Linked DNA regions of Homo sapiens: region 1 is linked to region 2. Evidence: fine-mapped expression QTL. A gene starts in region 2. The other region holds a variant in brackets. All regions are shown on one strand. Distances are from middle to middle. Region 1 overlaps LOC124904025 (a long non-coding RNA gene). Region 2 holds the start of SAMD14 (sterile alpha motif domain containing 14).

What was found. PIP is the estimated chance that this variant, and not a neighbour inherited with it, causes the effect. A credible set is the group of variants that fine-mapping cannot tell apart.
Region 1: its variant is the best candidate, but not a certain one, in a credible set for the expression of SAMD14 in whole blood (INTERVAL, PIP 0.85).

What each region holds. Positions count from the first base shown.
Region 1 is chr17:50,154,479-50,156,978 of GRCh38, forward strand. The region is part of intron 1 of LOC124904025 (a long non-coding RNA gene); the gene reads left to right. Among named protein-coding and RNA genes, the nearest start is that of PPP1R9B, 5.1 kb to the left of the region's middle. RefSeq lists a cis regulatory region at 1-118. The variant A/G (reference allele first, on the strand shown) is at 1,068.
Region 2 is chr17:50,129,150-50,131,649 of GRCh38, forward strand. It overlaps SAMD14 (sterile alpha motif domain containing 14), which reads right to left and starts at 1,011. Exons shown (of 10, transcript NM_001257359.2): 1 at 368-1,011. RefSeq lists silencers at 727-786, 1,027-1,106.

The DNA.
Region 1 (2,500 bases), 25 kb after region 2:
TCGTGTCCCCTCCCAAAGCCTGTTTCCTCAAAAAGCTTAGCTTGAGTGTCTGAGTGTTTCCTGAGCATAGATAACCCTAGGTGTCCCTCACTTTTGTGCATGCAGCACAGGCCTTGAAGCCAGGCCATCTCTGTTAGAATCTCCAACCTCCCACTCCCCAGCTAAGGGGCTTCAACAAATTCCTTCATCTATAAGATGAAGATAATATACCAACTTCATAGAGTTTTTGTGAGGAATAAATGGGTCCTCAATGCATAAGGCACTAAAAGGGGGCTCAGAGTGTTGGCTGTTACTGATTGCAGGGTATCCAAGCACATGTGGGGGTGTGTGCCTGCATGCACATGTGGGCAGGTGTGGCTGAGAATGAAACTCGGTGTTTGCATCTCTCTGTGTGTCTTCACAGGACTTTGGGGCTCTCATTTTCTTTAAGGTTCAATATGTGAAATTCTGAAATATAAACACCCCTTGCTTACAGCTTCTCCAAATCTTTGGGGGTCATTCTTGGGATGACCTCTCTTCTCTACTTCCCAAAGGGTTTTTCACTCCTGCCTGTGGGTGCCTCAAGCCCCTCATTGTCCCTGCAGGGAGAGGGGTCCCTTAGGGTCCTCTCACAGCTAGGAGACTGCCTTGCTGCTGGTTCCCTCTGCTGTACCCAGTTTCTTTCTATCACTCTCCACACTTGCTCCAGTGGCTCTTGGAAAGTTCAGATACATCTTGGAGACTAGGGAGGGAGACTTGGTAGGAGGAGTCAGGGTGTGTGTGTGTGTTGGGGGGCGGGGGAAGGGGTTGGACAGAGGAAAGATTTCTCCAAATCATCAGTTGCTTTAAAAGAAAGCCTATATTTAGCTGGGCTTAGAGGGCCTGTAAATATGTATTTTGCAAGGCAGACAGCCCGTAGCTGTGGGAGCTCCAGAGATATGCAGGGAGGTCAAAGAAAAAAAAAATAATCAGAAAGATTAGGCAATATATTTTGTCATCAGCAGATTCAAAAAACTCTACTGCCTGCTCTCACTGCTAATAATACACATTTCTGTGTTTCGATGGTTCCTATGTTTCATCTGCCCTCC[A/G]GATCTTGTGCAGTGGGTGCCTGAGAAGGAGACTGGCTCTCGGAGACACCTTTTCCTGCCAGCCTTTGCCTCATCTGCCCTGGGTCAGAGGAAACAGCATCCCACCATCTCCATCCCCACTAGCCCGCCAGGCTCTGCCTGGCGCAGGTACAGCCTCCAGAACACCAGCTCTCAGGTCTCCCACGCTCAGTGCCCAGCACGCAGGTGGCTTTGGGGTGAGGTGTGGGGTGAGAAATCCTGCACTTCAGGGCAGTTCTACTTCAGAGACCTCTTTTTTCCTACAAAAATGTTCATTAATTGTTTTTTTACTTTTACTTTGAAAAGTTTCTTTAACAGTAAGAGGCCTTCAAAGAATCATGTGACAGAATTTACAAATGCTAGCAATGTGTCATTTTTGCTTTGGGTTTTTACATATAAAAGAGAATATTTGGCCGGCCCGGTGACTCACACCACCCAGTGCCATAATCCCAGCACTTTGGAAGGCCGAGGAGGGCGGATCACGAGGTCAGGAGATCGAGACCATCCTGGCTAACAGTGAAACCCTGTCTCTACTAAAAATACACAAAAAAATTAGCTGGGCATGGTGGCAGGTGCCTGTAGTCCCAGCTACTCGGGAGGCTGAGGCAGGAGAATGGCGAGAACCCGGCAGGCGGAGCTTGCAGTGAGCCGAGATCGTGCCATTGCACTACAGCCTGGGCAACAAGAGCAAAACTCCGTCTCAAAAAAAAGTATATATATATATTTGAGCCCCCTTTTCTTTCTCCCCAGTTCCATTGTCCACCTCCCCCAACACTCACACATTTGGAATACAGCTTTTCTAGACCATAATTTTTGCATTACTATATTTTAATTGTAGCAGACTAGAGATATAAAATTCACCATTTTGGCCAGGCGCAGTGGCTCACGTCTGTAATCCCAGCACTTTGGGAGGCCGAGGCGGGCAGATCACGAGGTCAGGAGATCAAGACCATCCTGGCTGACACGGTGAAACCCCATCTCTACTAAAAATACAAGAAAAATTAGCCGGGCATGGTGGCGGGCGCCTGTAGTCCCAGCTACTCGGGAGGCTGAGGCAGGAGAATGGCTTGAACCTGGGAGGTGGAGCTTGCAGTGAGCTGAGATCGCGCCACTGCACTCCAGTCTGGGCGACAGAGCGAGACTCTGTCTCAAAAATAAACAAATAAATAAATAAAATAAAATTCACCATTCAGTGTGTACAGGTCACTGGCATTAAGTACAATCACCTTGTTGTGGAGCCATCACCACCATCTATCTCTAGAACTTACTTTCATCTTCCAGAGCTAAAACTCCATACCCATATAAGTCCCCATTCCCCTCTTCTGCCTCCCAGGTTCAAGCAATTCTTCTGCCTCAGCCTCCTGAGTAGCTAGTATTACAGGCCCGCACCACCATGCCAGGCTAATTTTTGTATT
Region 2 (2,500 bases):
ACAGGGCACCTACTCCACTCTCAGAGCCCTTCTCCCCAGTCAGAGCCCGGTGGCTAGTTTCTCTCCAAACCATCAGCACAACTCCCCGCCGGGCAAGAAAGAGTTAAGCCCTCTCCCCCTCCCCCCACACCAGCTTTTTATTAATTTCTCCGGGCGTCGGGCGGGAGGGAGGGGATTAGGGCCATAAATCCTATCTCCGCCCCCTCCCCTGACAGCCCGGCACCCCAGCCCCGTGCGGTCCCCCTAGGGATAGGGGAAGAAAGGCCCTTGTCGCTTAGCCCTGCCCAACCCCACTCAGGGTCCCACCGCGGGCCCGAGTGGCCCTAGCCCCAGTTCCCGGTCCACCCCAGGGCGCCCGGCCCCTCACCTCCGGCATCGGTCATCTTCAGCGTCTGGCGCCCCGGGAACCCCTCAGGCCCATGGTGCTCGAGGCGGGGGCCGGGCAGGAGAGGGGTGGGGGGACCGTCACCCCGGCCGCGGGGGGCTCCGGGCGGGCTCGAGCCGCTCCATCCCGGGGGTGGGGGTGAGGTCGGCGGGAAGGGTCCCAGAGCCGGGGGAGATGGAGGGCGGGGGATGTGGGGAGAGGGAACAGGTTCGCTGGAAGCAGGAGGCGCGGGCGGGGCTGGACCAGGAGACCTGACGGGAGGATGCTCCGTGTGTGTGTGCGTGTGCGTGTGCGTGTGTGTGTGTGTGACAGAGAGAGAGAGAGAGAGAAGAGCGAAGAGCGAGCGCCACCTCCCTCCCCGCCCCTGCCGCCCGCCAGGCCTGGCCGGACGCGGGGCCCCCGCCTGGCAGGGCCGATTCGCGCGGCGTCGCGTCGGCAGGGGTCCGCGGGGGTCTCCGGGGAAGGGGCGTCGGGGTGGGGGGCGCGTGGCGGAGAAGCCGGGCGCCCAGGAGACAAAGAGCGGGAGGGAGCGAGGGGGCGGGGGCGGGGGAGGGCGGCGGGGAGGAGGCGGCTGGGGCCGGGGAGCGGAGTTGCAGCTACTTCTCTGCCCGCGGGAGACGCGGCGCACCGGAGTCTGCGCGGGTGGGAGCGGCTCCGGGGCGGTCCCGCCACGGGACCCACGGGGCTTCCGCCTCCTCTGCCGGGTCCATCAGGGCTCCCGATTAGTTCATTCATTCAACAAACGTCCGCCGAGCAGCCGGGGCGCCGAGGCTGGAGGGGACAGCGGTGAACAGAACCCCCGCCCCCTAACTGCGCTCAAGGCCAGTGGGCCAGTCGGGGGCTCAGACGAGTGGGGAGGCCCTCACGAGCCTGGGCGCCATGGGCCCAGCTAACAGAGGGCACTTCTTGCCGGAAGGGAGAGCGCACCCCTGGCCCGGCCTGGGTCCAGGCGGCCGCGGCGGGAGCTGGGCTGGGGGATTCCCAGAGGATGTGATGTGTTGGCTACAACTGCGGGCCAGGGTAGGGAAGTGCCAGGGGGTGTTGGGGGTGGGAGGGCAAGAGGGGAAGATAAATTGAAGCTGGGGAGGTGCAGGGGGCTTGCACTTTATTCTACCAGCCGCCCACCCCGCCGCCCACACACACACACACACACACACACACACGCGCGCGCGCGCACACACACAAAATTAAGAGGAGGGAGGGGCTCAGGTGTGCATTTAGGAAGCACCCTTGGCTCCCCTGGAGACAGGGTTACAGAGGGCACTCTGAAGGCAGGGAGACCCGCTGGAGGCTATTGAGGGCCGGTGGCAGTGGGCATAAAGATTACAGATTAAGCTGAGAGCCCTTCAGGATGCAGGCCTGAAGAAGCTGACACCGAAGAAGCTGACAGGATTTGGGGACCTGCTGGACTAGGAGGTGAGGGAGGAGGGGTCTAGGATGGCTGTGGACCTTGGCTTGAGGCAGGAAGCCCTGGAGCAGGTGGGGGTGGGGACGGATGAGATCAGACTTGGACCCAGTGCGCTGATGGTAGTGGCAGGCCAGCCAGGGAGGCAATGTAGGGATCCACAACCAGCTACCGCACGTCACAGCTTGGCAGGTGCCAGGCGCTCTCAGATCATCTATTGTCACCCTCACAATAAACCCACAAGGTGGGTGTTTCCATTACCCACTGCCTCAGAGAAAACAGAGACTTAGAAGAAGGAAAGTGCTTTGCTCAAGAGCAAGTGGTGAAAGGCCAGGCGCAGTGGCTCACGACTGTAATCCCAGCACTTTGGGAGGCCAAGGTGGGTGGATTACATGAGGTCAGGAGTTCGAGACCAGCCTGGCCAACATGGTGAAACCCTTGTCTCTACTAAAAATACAAAAATTAGTCAGGCATGGTGGCGCTACTCTGGAGGCTGAGGCATGAGAATTGCTTGAACCTGGGAGGTGGAGGTTGGAGTGAGCTGAGATTGTGCCACTGCCTTTCAGCCTGGCCAACAGAGTGAAACTCAAATCTCAAAAAAAAAAAAAAAAAAAAAAAAAAAAAAAAAAAAAAAAGGCAAGTGGTGAAGCTGGATCAGGGGTCTAGAGTCAGAGGAGAGGTGTGGAGTCTATAGGACAGAGTTCCCTGAT